2 linked regions of the Homo sapiens genome follow. The protein of the gene in region 2 binds, or shares a complex with, the protein of the main gene of each other region. Each region holds a gene or a part of one and is shown on either strand. Other genes may lie near its edges.

What was found. Proteins that work in one complex are often made in the same cells at the same time.
Region 1: SMU1 (region 2) and MFAP1 share a complex: the UniProt entries of both Homo sapiens proteins name them as parts of the spliceosome B complex.

Annotation. Positions count from the first base shown.
Region 1 is NC_000015.10:43,821,386-43,829,596, reverse strand, and holds the start of MFAP1 (microfibrillar-associated protein 1), read left to right. Parts: upstream 1-4,906; 5' UTR 4,907-5,027; coding exon 5,028-5,106; intron 5,107-8,211. Other genes in the region: WDR76 (WD repeat-containing protein 76), read right to left, coding at 1,231-1,632, 2,505-2,564. UniProt on the Homo sapiens protein: Involved in pre-mRNA splicing as a component of the spliceosome.
Region 2 is NC_000009.12:33,066,184-33,073,840, reverse strand, and holds part of SMU1 (WD40 repeat-containing protein SMU1), read left to right. Parts: intron 1-34; coding exon 35-245; intron 246-1,948; coding exon 1,949-2,101; intron 2,102-4,906; coding exon 4,907-5,017; intron 5,018-7,657. UniProt on the Homo sapiens protein: Involved in pre-mRNA splicing as a component of the spliceosome. Regulates alternative splicing of the HSPG2 pre-mRNA. Required for normal accumulation of IK.

The sequences.
Region 1 (8,211 bases), on a different chromosome or scaffold from region 2:
AGGAGGAGCTTGCAGTAAGCCGAGATCATGCCACTGCGCTCCATCCTGGGCAACAGAACAAGACTCGTCTCAAAAAAAAAAAAAAAAAAAAAAAAAAGTGGCCATGCTAGGCTCTCAACCCCAAGTCCAATTCATTTAATACTTACCCCATGCTGTCCCACTATGAGTCCTGGTTCTTAACTCTGGGACGAGAAAGCATAAAGCAAACTTCTATTTCATAACAACAAGCCTTCAATTATAGTATCTCCCTTTCCCTAGGATCATTTTCTGTTTTCTGAGTTCCATCAACATTGTGTCATGTGCTATGTATGTTTTATCTTGTCCAGTTAAAATTTGTCACTTTGAATGGAGCACGGCGCTCCTGGTAGGCAGCAGAAGCCAAAAGAATTACAGACCAGGCTGGGCGCAGTGGCTCACCCCTGTAATCCCAGCACTTTGGGAGGCTGAGGCGGGTGGATCACAAGGTCAGGAGTTAGAGACCAGCCTGACAAACATGGTGAAACCCCGTCTCTACTAAAAACACAAAATTAACCAGGTGTGGTGGCACGCGCCTGTAATCCCAGCTACTCAGGAGGCTGAAGCAGGACAATCTATTAAAACTGGGAGGCCGAGGTTGCAGTGAGCCGAGATAGCGTCACTGCACTCTGGCCTGGGCGACAGAGCGAGACTCTGTCTCCAAAAAAAAAAAAAAGAAAAAAATTACACACCAAATTCCTTAAATTGATTGGAATTACACAGAACAAATGTGTTTCTCATGTATCTTACCTACTCTGTCATTTGTCTCGTTTTGCATTTAAAGGAAATATTATTCAACACAACCATAGAATCAATTTATGTTTCCCTACCCTGATATCAAAGGTCAGTCAATACCATGTCCCACAAACTGATGACTTCTGATATACTGTACATAAACATGTAAAGGTGAGAAAGGCACCATAAAGTATGACTAAACCCAAAAATATATGCAGTTAGTTTAGAGAAAGAAAAAAGGAAGCAGAGTAAAGATTAAGTCAATCCTTTCATTGACACATCAACAGCAAGAGCAAAAATAACCCAAGGAAGTTATTTGTTAAACCTTAAAAATAATAAAAATGTATTATTACATTTATACTTACATTAGATGATGAAATAACTTGTTTGTACCAGAGAGATCCTCGAAAAACTTCGATTTATCAGAACTTCAAATTTCAAAAAAGAGAAACCAGAACAAGCTACTAATTAAGTTCTTACCAGGGATGGTGTGGTATCTTCATCACTGTCTCCATCCTGACTACTTTCCACATCAACACTGAGATTCATCGCATCTGCCGTTCTCTTGGGTTGTAGCTTGTTACTTTCAGTATGAACAGCTGAGGATGAATTTTGCAGCGTGGATTCTGCCTTGGAAGATGTGTTTTTCATCTTTGGAGGTATAATCCTTCTGCAAGTTTTCTTTATTTTAGTCTTCTTACACGCCACTTCATTGTTAGAATTCTTTTCTGATAGGGATTTGGGGCACATAAGCTGGTCTAGCTGGTAATTACTGAGTGAAAAGGGGGCAAGATAGACCTTAGCTGTTTTTATTAAAACTGTAGTCTGTGCTGGTCTCAGAGACACATAAGCGATGTTTTGATTTTCTTTATATTCATTTACCTATTCAGATCAATAAAAGAAAACAGAATATTAGAACTCCAAGTCCTGTGCCTTTTCTTACAGGATCCCTAACAGATCTAATAATTCCCATTTCCCAAAGACAATATAAATCCAAATTGAGGCCAGGTGCAGTGGCTCACGCCTGTAATCCCAGCACTTTGGGAGGCCCAATCGGGCAGATCGCGAGGTCAGGAGATCGAGACCATCCTGGCTAACATAATGAAACCACCTGTCTCTACTAAAAATACAAAAATTAGCTGGGCATAGTGGCACACGCCTGTAGTCCCAGCTACTCAGGAGGCTGAGGCAGAAGAATCACTTGAACCCGGGAGACGGAGGTTGCAGTGAGCCGAGATCACACCACTGCCCTCCAGCCTGGGCAACAGAGTGAGACTTAAGCTCAAAAAAATAAATAAATCCAAATTGACACCCTTCGTAAGAAAACTTATTTTCCCCTCCAAAATCCTAGATATGTAATTCACTAACCTTAACCTCAGTAGAATTCACTTACTGGGCACATTTGCCCATAAGTTTTCCAGACCAATAATAATAATGACTAGCATTTGTGACTGGGGCAAATACCCCAACTGTCAGCTGCGGATTGTCTGGAATTATTTAAAGAGTGTGAAGCCGATCATAACTGTGGCAGAAGAAAACGCAGAAGGTTGAAGAAAGGGAATCCCAGATGTGACTCTCCCACTATTTCTCGGGTTATTGATAAGAACCTTTCGTCAAAGCTGAAGGCCTAAGGGCAGGGATCCCCCGCCTACCCCCGGTGCCAGGTGCCCTCGACCTCCTGGGCCTGTGTCCCGCATAACCCTCACAAAAACCGAGGCAGGAGCACACCTTGGAAGCACCAGTCCGTTTCTCACCTTCATCTGGGGTCGCTGTCTGGAGTCCGCCTTCTCAGCCGCCGCGCCCGACCTGGACATCTTTCGGCTTCTTAGCGGCCGGCGCCTTCCCGCCAAGATTGCGGCGGGAGGCCGGGAGGGGCGGGTCCGAGGCGGGGCGGAGCCCACTCAGATCCCCAGCGGCCGCAGCGCCAGAGCAGGAAGTTGGGGTTTTACGCGCGCTTCTTAAGAAGGCCGCCTTGGCCAGGCGCGGTGGCTCCCGCCTGTAATCCTAAGCACTTTGGGAGGCTGAGGCGGCGGATCACCTGAGGTCAGGAGTTTGAGACCAGCCTGGCCAACATGACGAAACCCCGTCTCTACTAAAATTACAAAAATTAGCCGGGCTTGGTGGCGCGTGCCTGTAATCCCAGTTACTCAGGAGGCTGAGGCAGAATTGCTTGAACCCAGGGGGCAGAGGTTGCAGTGAGCTGAGATCGCGCCATTGCACTCCAGTCTGGGCAACAAGAGTGAGACTCCGTCTCAAAAAAAAAAAAATGCTGTCTTAAAGCCCTAGACTCAAATTCTTTAGGGATGTCCTGGGGCTGAACTGACATTTTTACCTTTGACTGGTGATTTTGATTCTGGTGGTACTGGGATGTCGCTTTGAAAAACACTAACAGGCCGGGAGCGGTGGCTAACGCCTGTAATCCCAACACTTTGAGAGGCCGAGAGGAGTGGATCACTTGGGCCCAGGAGTTCCAAACCAGCCTGGGCAACATAGTGAGACCCCATCTCTATAAAAAATACAAAAATTAGCCCAGCGTGGTGTTGTACGTCTGTAGTCCCAGCTACTCAGAAGGCAGGGGTGGGAAAATGGCTTGAACCTAGAAGGATGAGGCCACAGTGAGCCGTGATTGCGCGGAACTCCAGCCTGAGCGACAGAGCAAGACCCTCTTCTATAAATAATAAAATAAGATTCTGGCTATTCTCTTTAAGGTTCCTTCTAGCCCAAAACTGTTTCCTTGGTTGCTTAGTTGGGTCCCACACTGTTCCTTGCCTGAGATTTGTCCAGTTTCATTTCTTCTCCCACTCAAGGCCCAATTGTAGAACACAGGTGAAGTAATTTGGGTTAATCATATTAATAGCAACTTCAAGGCCCCTCATGACTCAAAAATTACTGATAAAACCAAACTTTTCATGGTGTCCTGTATAAAACATACTGTTTCTGGACTTTAAGACTTTGTTCCTACTGTCCCTTGTCTCCCCCGCAGTTATAAAGTCCTTTCTACTGTGAAATGTGTCCTGACTTTCCAATTAGCCAATATTATATATATTTTTTAACACGACTCAGCTTGTAAATTGGAGCTGCTTCTGTTATTATCCTGTAAGTCCTTAAAGAGTTCTTAAATAGGCCGGGTGCGGTGGCTCACCTCTGTAATCCCAGCACTTTGGGGAGGCCGAGGTAGGTGGATCATCTGAGGTCAGGAGTTCAAGACCAGCCTGGGCAACATGGCGAAACCCTGCCTCTACTAAAAATACAAAAATTAGCCGGGAGTGGTGGCCCACGCCAACACTCAGCACTGTGGGAGGCCGGAGTGGGCGGATCACTTAAGCCTGGCCAACATGGTGAAACCTCGTCTCTACTAAAAATACAAAAATCAGCAGGGAGTGGTGGCAGGCGCCTGTAATCCCAGCTAATCAGAAGGCTGAGGCACGAGAATTGCTTAAACCCGGGAGGTGGAGACTGCAGTGAGCTGAGATCGAGCCACTGCACTCCAGCCTGGGTGACAGAAAAAGACAGTCTCAAAAGAATAATAATTACTTAGATATTTAAATACAAACATTTTCTAGCCAGGAATGTATTTTAATAGGTAGTTTCCAGAAACTGGAAAAACCTGAAAGCCTAAAAAAGTGGAGTTTTGGGATTTCAGGTGGGCAATGTCCCAGGCACCTCGGGAGTTTTTTTTTTTTTTTTTTCGGTCACTGGCCTAAATCAGCACCACCTGCCCTGTGAAACCAAATACCGCACCACAGCCCACCCTGGCCTTATGAACTAAGCTAATCGGATACTACTGGCAAGATTTTTATTCCATCAAACTCTACTTCTTCTGAGCTTTCAACAAGCCATTCAAACAGTAACTCACTGTCGCCTGAGTTTCTTATTCACTATACCGTTCTTGGCTTCAAACCAAGCTAACACGTAAAATCTTTCATTCGAACCTTCCTCACCGCAGAGTCCTAACAGCAAAGCCCAAAGGAAGCAAAATTTCCCGCCAAAAGCTGCTTCCAAATTCTGCGACGTAGAGGACATGCGGGCAGCCAATGAGCATGCGCAGAAACCGACTCGACTTCCTAGCTGTGGGCGCCCAAACGTCGTCCACCATCCCACAATCCTCTCGTCACGTATTTCCGGTTTATCTAGCTCAGCCGTAAGTAGTTTCTCTATCAGTCGCGCAGCTGTGTTCGCGGACTCAGGTGGAAGGAATTTCTTCTCTTCGTTGACGTTGCTGGTGTTCACTGTTTGGAATTAGTCAAGTTTCGGGAATCACCGTCGCTGCCATCAACATGTCGGTCCCAAGCGCTCTCATGAAGCAACCGCCCATTCAGTCTACGGCTGGGGCCGTCCCAGTTCGCAATGAGAAAGGTACGGTGCTAACACCCTCTTCCCAGTCGAATTTTAACCCCTTCCGGCCCCAGCAACCTCCAGACCTCTCCCGGACAGACCACTCCAACCCCGCCAGCTCTTGAGATCTGGCTGCCAGATTCTTCGATCTTTCCACCCCCACCCACTTGCATCCGATCTTGTTCCTGTGGCCTGCTCTCGTATTCAGCAAGCACCTCTCTTCTGTTAGCCTCCACAAATTCCTTAGACTAATGTTACATATATATAATATATATTACACATATAAAAACATTAGGAACTTAAGTATATATCAGAATATATATGTCTAATATATATATGCTAGAATATATGTATTAGTCTAATATATATTATGATTAGAATATAATATCACTAATTACATATAATTACAAGAATTTATGTATTATTAGTGTAATTACTTAGGAACTTAAGTATATTATTAATCTAATAATTAGGAACTTAAGTATATATCAGAATATGTATATAATATCAGACTAGATAGATAGATAGAGAATGCCTGTTGGCAGGGCATTGTGCGGGATACAGTCCCTCTTTTGCTGTCCATAGAAGTCTGCTTATGCTGCCCAGGCTGGACTCGAATTCCTGGGGCTCAGGCTGTCCTCCTGCCTCAGCCTCCCGAGTAGATGCCGCCGTATCTAGTCTCAACATGGCTTTTGAGAATTATCTTTGGATCCCTATACATCTAATTCATTCATCTTAACAGCTTATGAATTCCATTGTATAAAATAAACTGTAATCCACACTTTATTCCCTACTGAGAGGCAGGTGGTTGTCCCCTTGTTCAAAAAAGTGCTGCGGCCAGGCACGGTGTCTTATGCCCATAAACCCAGCACTTTGGGAGGCTGAGGCGGGCTGAACACCTGAGGTCAGGAGTTCAAGACAGCCTGGCGATCATGGCGAAACCCCGTCTCTACTAAAAATACAAAAAATTAGCCATGCATGGTGGTGGGTACCTGTAATCCCAGCTACTTGGGAATCTGAGGCAGGAGAATTGCTTGAACCCGGGAGGTGGAGGTCGCAGTGAGCAGAGATCGCACCATTGCACTCCAGCCTGGGCCACAGTGTGAGACACTCTCTCAAAAAAAAAAAAAGAAAGTTCTGCAATTGTCATTCTCTAGCCAATACTAGCTTTATTTAGTACCTGTTGCCAATTGCTCCCCAAAGTAAGTTATAAGAACATAAGAATTTGTGGAGCACAGTGGCTTACACCTGTAATCTCAGCACTTCGGGAGGCTGAGGCAGGAGGATCGCTTGAGGCCAGGAGTTCAAGACCAGCTTGGGCAACATAGCGAGACCACCCCCCACCCCCGCCAATCTCTGCAAAAATAAAAATTAGGGCCCGGCGCGGTGGCTCACGCCTGTAATCCCAGCACTTTGGGAGGCTGAGGCTGGTGGATCACCTGAGGTCAAGAGTTCGAGACCAACCTGGCCAACGTGGTGAAACCGTCTCTACTAAAAATACAAAAATTAGCCAGGTGTGGTGGCAGGCGCCTGTAATCCCAGCTACTCGGTAGGCTGAGGCAGGAGAATCACTTGAACTCAGGGGGCAGAGGTTGCAGTGAGCCGAGATCGCACCATTGCACTCCAGCCTGGGGGACAAGAGCAAGACTTCGTCTCAAAAATAATAATAATAATAATAATTAAAAATTAGCGGGATGTAGTGATGTGCTCCTGCTACTTGGGGGAAGCCAAAGCAGGAGGATCACTTATGCTCGAAAGTTCAAAGATGCAATGAGCTATGATTGTGCCATTACACTCCAACCTAAGCAACAGATCAAGACCCTGTCTGTTAAAACAAAGGCTGGGCGTGATGCCTCAGGCCTGTAATCCCAGCACTTTGGGAGGCCGAGATGGGTGGATCACCTGAGGTCAGGAGTTTGAGACCAGCCTGGCCAACATGGTGAAACCCCGTCTCTACTAAAAATACAAAAATTAGCCGGGTGTGATGGCGCACGCCTGTAATCCCAGCTGTTTGGAAGGCTGAGGCAGGAGAATCACTTGAACCCGGCAGGTGGAGGTTTCATGGAGCCAAGATCATGCCACTGCACTCCAGCCTGGCCAACAGAGCAAGACTCTGTCTCAAAGAAAAAAAAGAAAACAAACTTTGAGAACCTAAGAGCTTTATTTCCCATATATTCATCATCTACACACTTGGTTGTATCAGATTTTTACATTTTTTGCCCAATCTAACAGGTGTGAAATGGTATCTCATTATTCTAATTTGCATTCCCCTGATTACTAGTGATGCTGGGCTTTTTTTTTTTTTTTTTTTGAGAAAGAGTTTCACTCTTGTTGACCAAGCTGGAGTGCAATGGCTCCATCTCGGCTCACCATAGAGCTACTGCGTCCGGCCGATGCTGGGCATCTTGTTCATGTGTCTAATAAGCTCTCTAGATTTTCTTTTCCATGAATTACCTGTTTCTGTCAGTTACCCACTTTCTGTTTGCTTTGTTTTTATATATTCCAAATCTATAGTATACGTTTCCCCATTTTTTGGCTTGTCTTTTAATTATGGAGTCTTCTCTTACACACGTTTCTAGTTTTAGTATTATCAGATTTATCAACTTTATCTTGTATGGTTTTAGCTTTTTTTTGTATATCGTTTAAGAAATAATCCTTCCCTGCACTGAGATCACAGATACTCATATTGTAAAGGTTTTCTATCTTCTGAGTGTTTGTATATATTAAATTGAGTTGAATACACACTTATACAAGACAGATTATAAGTTAGCTTACAGTCCAGTAGGGAATGTAAATATTTAAGATAAGTTTTTCATAGTTGCGTCTTTAATCCATCTGGAATTTTTGTGTCTGTGGTGGAAGTTAGAGGTCTAATTTTACTATATGGTTGGCCAATTGTCCCTTCTCACCCCATCCATTTTCTACTGATTTTTAATGCCATCCCTATAATATACTCGAGTTCTCATATAAGTTTGTTTTTCTTTTCTCTGTTACATTGATCTCTGTGTACTTCCTGGGTCACTGACATATCTGGTAAACTATGCCCCACCCCTCCTTCCCCGCCCCCATCAGCTTTATTCTTCTTCAGCATTGTCTTGGCATTTTGGGGCCTCCTGTTCTTCCATA
Region 2 (7,657 bases):
GAATCCCTGAGCTGAACGATTTGTTTTCTTTCAGTGTGATCCGCCTTATTATGCAGTACTTGAAGGAGAACAGTTTACATCGGGCGTTAGCCACCTTGCAGGAGGAGACTACTGTGTCTCTGAATACTGTGGACAGCATTGAGAGTTTTGTGGCTGACATTAACAGTGGCCATTGGGATACTGTGTTGCAGGCTATACAGTCTCTGAAATTGCCAGACAAAACCCTCATTGACCTCTATGAACAGGTAAGAGTGGTGGTGATGCTGATCCCCATGGGTTGGTTCGTTGTGGGCCAGCTCCCCAACTAAAAAGCGTCAGTGAGCATTCCTTCAAGCACGGTAGGGCTGCATCAGCCCATACAACAATGGCAAGGCTTGACATTGTATTTTTTCTCCCTTCTTGGAAAATCCAGGATTTCCCAAATTAAAATTCTTTCCTTTTTTTGAGACTGGATCTTGTTCTGTTACCCACTCTGGAGTGCAGTGGCAAGATCACAGCTTGCTGCATCCTCCATTTCCAGGATCAATCCTTCCTCCTGCCTCAGCCTCCTGAGTAGCTAGGAACACAGGCACGCACCACCACGCCTGCCTAATTTTTGCATTTTTCTGTAGAGACAGGATCTCACCATAATACCCAGGGTGGTCTCAAACTCCTGGGCTCAAGCAGTTCGCCAGCCTTGACTTTCCAAAGGGCTGGGATTACAGGCACGAGAGAGCCTCAACTTTCTAATCACATAGTTAGTCTTTCTGATAACTAGCTCCTACCTATCCTGAGCCATTTCCTTTGCACAAACCCAGGTGTGATTCAAGGGGCCCAGGAGTAACAAAGATACCCCTATCACTGGTCAAATTCCAAGAAGCTCCAAGCCAAGAACCTAGGACAAAGATCAGACAAATTTGTGATTATAAAACAGCAGAGTAGACTTTCTGGAAATAAGATTGTAATTTGAAGTAAAAGTAGTGAAATTGGTTTTTGGTTTTTGTTTACGGGTTTTTTTTTTTGTTTTTTTTTTGAGACAGAGTCTCACTGTGTTACCCAGGCTGGAGTGCAGTGGTGCGATCTCTGCTCACTGCAACCTCCATCTCCGGGGTTCAAGCGATTCTCCTGCCTCAGCCTCCCGAGTAGCTGGGATTACAGGCGTGCATCACCACGCCCAGCTAAGTTTTGTGTTTAGTAGAGACGGGGTTTCACCACATTGGCCAGGCTGGTCTCCAACTCCTGACCTCAAGTGATCCACCTGCCTCAGCCTCCCAAATGCTGGGATTACAGGTGTGAGCTGCCGTGTCTGGGCAGTTTGTTTCTTTACAATCCGTATGAGTTCAATAATTCCCAAAGAAAATTTTGGTAACTGGAGAAAGGTTTCTCTGGAGCCCATGGGTATATTCCCATCTTTAGCTTTCTTTGGCATCTACATTCTGAGCAAGAAGCCTGAGAGGAGGGGAGATTGGTAGATAAAAATGAAGGATAGAGTTTGAAGGATTGAAATTATTATTTATTTATTTATTGAGACAGATCTCGCTCTGTCGCCCAGGCCAGAGTACAGTAGCATGAGCTTGGCTCACTGCACTCTCCGCCTCTCGGGTTCAAGCAATTCTCCTGCCTCAGCCTCCCAAGTAGCTGGAATTACAGGCATATACCACCACACCCAGCTAATTTTTTTTGTATTTTTAGTAGAGAGTCTGTTTCACCACGTTGGCCAGGCTGGTTTCGAACTGCTGACCTCAAGTGATCCGCCCATCTTGGCCTCCCACAGTGTTAGGATTATAGGCATGAGCCACCAAGCCCACCAAGTCCACCTGAAATTGCTAGTGAAAATGGAAAGGGGCACTTCCTGGTATTGGAAATCCTTTGACAGGCCATATCTGTGTTAGATATTTTACCGAAAAATATTAATAAGACGGTGTGTTGAAACATCTGGGGTTTTTTTTGTTTTTTTTTAATTGTCCAGGTTGTTCTGGAATTGATAGAGCTCCGTGAATTGGGTGCTGCCAGGTCACTTTTGAGACAGACTGATCCCATGATCATGTTAAAACAAACACAGCCAGAGCGATATATTCATCTGGAGAACCTTTTGGCCAGGTCTTACTTTGATCCTCGTGAGGTATGACTGTGGTAATGAAAAGGAACTTTTTGTTAACTTTGGAAATGAAATAACATGATCTTTTTTTTTTTTTTTTACCATTTTATTGTATACTCTTTGTGATTTTGATTTAATTTTTGAGAATGATGCTTCTCTGTTTATATATGTTGGCTGAAATTTGCGTATGTTAAAGAGAATAATTTTGTTCAGTTTTCTGATTATTTGAGTCTTCTATACACCTCAGTTTAGAGGATTGCGTGTTGGTTAGTAAAAAAAGCAGAACATTTTATTCTGATGTCATTTCCACATTAGCCCTCCCCGAAGTGCTGCCTGACTGCTGGTATGTTCACTGATCATTTGTGTGTCTTGCCCCTAACAATTGTAGTTTCCTTCTAGCCTTTTTAGTCCCTAGAAGCTTTTGTTTCTTCGCGGATTATGCTTACCAGTAGAGCATGATGATAGTCTTTTATTCTTCCAAAACGTTATTATCTGTATAGTTTCATTCTTCCTAAACCTTATTATCTGTATGGTTTCATTCTTCCTGCCCACCCCCCCAGCCTTTTACTAGAGGTTTGTCAAAATAGGAGGAAAAAGGATTAAAAAAAATTTTTTATGGGTACATAGTAGGTGTATATATTTATGGGGTACATGAGATATTTTGATATAGGCATGCAGTGCATAATGAGGGTAAATGGAGTATCCATCACCTCAAGCATGTATCCTTTGTGTTACAAACAATTCAATTCTTTCAGTTATTTTAAAATGTATAATTATTATTGGCTATAGTCACCCTGTTGTGCTATCAAATACTATTTCTTATTTATTCTTTATATTTTTTGTATCTATTAACCATCCCCACTTTCCTTCTTACCCCCGCCACCTCCACCCTTCCCAGCCTCTGACAACCATCCTTCTACTCTCTATCTCCATGTTTTAATTTTTAGTTCCTGCAAATAAATGAGAACATGCAAAGTCTGTCTTTCTGTGCCTGGCTTATTTCGCTTACCATAATGAGCTCTAGTTACATGCATGTTGTTGCAAATGACAGGATTTCATTCTTTTATATGTCCAGCTAGTACACCATTGTGTACATGTACCTCATTTTCTTTATTTATCTGTTAATGGTCACTTATCGTTGCTTCCAAATCTTGCCTATTGTGAACACTGCTGTAATAAACATGGGAGTGCAGATATCTCTTTGATATACTGATTTCCTTTTGGGTGTGTACCTAGCAGTGGGATTGCTGGATCATATGGTACCTCCATGTTTAATTTTTTGAGGAATCTCCAAACTATTCTCCATAGTGGTTGTACTAATTTACATTCCCACTAATAGTGTACGAGGGTTCCTTTTTCTCCACTTACTCACCAGCATTTGTTATTTCCTGTCTTTTTGTATAAAAGCCATTTTAACTGGAGTGAGATGATATCTCATTGTAGTTTGATTTGCATTTCTCTAATGATCAGTTGTGTTGAGCACCTTTAAATAAACCTGTTTGCCTTGTGTGTGTCTTTTTTTGAGAAATGTCTATTCAGATCTTTCACCCATTTTTAACATTGGATTATCAGATTTTTTTCCCGTAGAGTTGTTTGAGCTCCTTATATATTCTGGGTTTTGTTGTTGTTGTTGTTGTTGTTTTTGAGACAGAGCTCTGTTACCCAGGCTGGAGTGCAGTGGCGTGATCTCGGCTCACTGCAGCCTCCGCTTCCTGGGTCCAAGTAATTCTCGTGCCTCAGCCACCAAGTAGCTGGGATTACTGGTGTGTGCCACCACACTCAGCTAATTTTTGAGTTTTCAGTAGAGATGGGGTTTCGCCATGTTGGCCAGGTTGGTCTCGAAGTCCTGGCCTCAAGCAGTCCACCCGCCTCGGCCTCCCAAAGTGCTAGGATGACAGGCATGAGCCACCACACTTGGCCCTGTATTCTGGTTATTTATTTATTTGTTTATTTATTTTTCTGAGACAGAGTCTTGCTGTTGTCTCCCCGGCTGGAGTGCAATGGCACGATCTTAGCTCACTGCAACCTCCACCTCCCAGGTTCCAGGAATTCTCCTGCCTCAGCCTCCCGAGTAGCTGAGATTACAGGCACCCACCACTATGGCCTGGCTAGTTTTTCTATTTTTAGTAGCGACAGAGTTTCACCATGTTGGCCAGGCTGGTCACAAACTCCTGACCTCGGGTGATCTGCCAGCCTCAGCCCCCGAAAATGTTGGGATTACAGGCGTGAGCCACCCTGCCCAGCCATATTCTGGTTATTAATCCCTTGTCAGATGGGTAGTTTGCAAGTATTTTCTCAGGAGGAAGAAGAACTTAATAGGCACTGGATAATAGAATGTTAGAGTAAACCTACAAAATCTATGAGGATAAAGGAAAGGATTTTAGATTACCAGGACAGGATTTAACTTAGAGGTGGTGAAGCACTTCTGTGCTGGGAGCCATTTAAGAAATTACTAAAGAGTATAAAAGAATTCTTGGTTCTGCAAATTTTTCAAAAACTGGAAGAACAACTCTGGGTTTAATGTGGTTTACTTGGACTCTTTTCAGAAAAATAGCAGTGTGTCCTTTGGCCAGGAACTCAGTGAAAAAATAATAATAGTGTGGATTGGCTGACCTCAGTTTTCTCCCAACTCATACTTTTGAAATGCAAGCGGGCAGAATTGGGAAGTCATTTTCAAAAACTAAATTAGTTCAACTAATCCCTTCTTTAACTGGGTAATTTCTTTTCACATTTTCCTCTGTGTATGCTTCTGCTTGTTTGTTTTAAATAAGCACACTCATATCTTGTTGTTGCTTCTTGGAAATGATGCTACACCCTCTCCTTTTTCAGGCATACCCAGATGGAAGTAGCAAAGAAAAGAGAAGAGCAGCAATTGCCCAGGCCTTAGCTGGCGAAGTCAGTGTGGTGCCTCCATCTCGTCTCATGGCATTGCTGGGACAGGTAATTCAATTCCTGTAGAGGCCAGGTGTGGTGGCTCACACCTGTCATCCTTGCACTTTGGGAGGCTGAGGCAGGAGAATCACTTGAGCCTAGTAGTTGGAGACCAGCCTAAGCAACATTGTGAGACTCTGTCTCTACAAAAAGTAAAAAAATTAGCGGGTTATGGTGGGGTGTGCCTGTGGTCTCAGTTACTTGGGAGGCTGAGGTGGGACAATCACTGGAGCCCAGAAGATTGAGATGACAGCTATGATCATGCCATTATACTCCAGCTTGGGCAACAGAGTGAGACCCTGTCTCCAAAAATAAAAATAAATTTAAAAAGTGAACTCCTGGTACAATTTCCTAATTTCCTATGTATAAACTATGTCTTAGCTGAAGAAATTGTACACCCTAAGAATTGGGGACTACCTACAGAGTTGCTTATTCCAGTAACTGTGCTGTTCCACTCTCCCTCTTTCCTGGGAGAGGCAATATAGATTAGTGGTTAAGAACAAGCTCTGGAGTCAGTTAGAATTAGGGTTACCATAGAATTTATCATCCTGTCTGGAATATCGTTGAGAGTACAGTTGATCCCTATGCCAGAACACCAAGTGCAAATAGTAACTGTCCTGGAAAGATTGGAACAAATGCCCATCCTAGTTAGAATCCAGGCTTTCTCATTTACCAGCTATATAGTCTTGGCAAATTACTTAACTTTTCTGGTCCCATTTACTCGTCACAGTATTGAGAGTAAGGATTAAGAGAAATAATGTTCATAAACACTTTATACATTTCCTGGCACCTTGTAAATAGTAAATGGTAGCTGCTGGTGATGATTTTTTAAAAAATTACTAATAGTGTTGCCAGCATGGTCATTATTATAAAGCTACTTAGAGTAATAGATATATTATAAATAACAAAGGGCACAAGTGATTAATAGGGATGTTAATAACCTTTTTGCACTAAATCTGCATTTAGAAAAGGACCAAAAAGCTATTTGTTGCAGGCCTGCAGTGACTCTGAGATTCAAAAGTAAGCTGCTTTTTGGCCTGGCGTGGTGGCCCATGCCTGTAATCCCAGCACTTTGGGAGGCCAAGGTGGGTGGATCACCTGAGATCAGGGGCTCGAGATGAGCCTGGCCAACATGGTGAAACCCCGTCTCTACTAAAAATACAAAAATTAGCTGGGCGTGGTGGCAGGAACCTGTAATCTCAGCTACTCGGGAGGCTGAGGCAGGAGAATCACATGAACCCAGGAGGCAGAGGTTGCAGTGAGCCGAGATTGAGCCATTGCACTCCAGCCTGGGAGACAAGAGCGAGACTTCATCTCAAAAAAAAAAAAAAAAAAAGTAAGCTGCTTTTTGATTTCTTAATCAAACTAATAGCAGTGCATCGTTTAAGTAGTACTTCAGGGCTTACAGTGAAAAACAGTCCCATGTGCTTCCCTTCTCCACCTCTGATTCTTAACTTTCCTGACTTAGCTCCATAGCTGAATACCATGTTTATACTGTTATTACCTGATTTTTTTTTTTTTTTTTTTTTTTTTTTGGTCATTAGCAACTAACTTTCTTCAGCGAAAAATGATTTGTCTTATACCCACTCTCCTCAATACACACTTACTCTTCTTCTGGATTTTCAGTAGAGCTGTATCACAACTTTTGGTTCAATCTATATTCAATGTTTACATAGTTATTTTTATATAGCTATTGTTCACAGCTAAAAAATAATTACATGTAATTTCTTACATAAATTTTTATGATTTGCAATAATTATTGCTTATTTTTTCTTTTGCCTAGTTTTCTATGCACTTCTGCTAGTCCAGCCTGAGTATTTCTAGTAGAACCGTCAAAAGTCCTTTTTTTTCCGCTTGCTGATATCTTTCCTGAGGCCCTTCTCTTTTTGTTCCCATCAGGACTAGTTCTCTTGCATTGCTGCACAGTTACTGTACCAGGACTTCTCTCATCTTCATACTGGGAATTTTGGGTCTCTTATTTTTTTGGTAGGTCTTATTTATAGATTCCTCAGTTTTCTTTTTTTTTTTGAGACAGAGTCTCACTCTGTCGCCAGGCTGGAGTGCAGTGGCACGATCTTGGCTCACTGCAACCTCCGCCTTCTGGGTTCGAGCAATTCTCCTGCCTCAGCCTCCCGAGTAGCTGGGACCACAGGTGCCCACCACCATGCCCAGCTAATTTTTGTATTTTTAGTAGAGACGGGGTTTCACCATGTTGGCCAGGATGGTCTCGATCTCTTGACCTCGTGATCTGCCCACCTCGGCCTCCCAAAGTTTTGGGATTACAGGCGTGAGCCACCGCACCCAGCCTTTTTTTTTTTTTTTTTTTTAATTAAATGGAACACAGAGCCTTGCTGTGTTGCCCAGACTATCCTGCCTCTGCCTTCCTAAGTACTGGGATTACAGGTGTAAGCCGCTGAGCCCAGCCTAGACCCTCATTTTGTGGGAGTACTGAGTCCAGTAACTTCCTGAGAAAGGAAGCATAGAAATAAATTTTTGAGATTTTATTTGTGTCTGTAATACCGTGTATCTTTCTTTCTCTTTAAATGTTTAAAGTTTTATTATCCTTCCTGCATTGTCCCTGTATTCCTATTTTTTCTTTTTCTCTGAGTTTTCCCCTTCCCTGTTTGTTTTGCTGACCATATGTGGGAG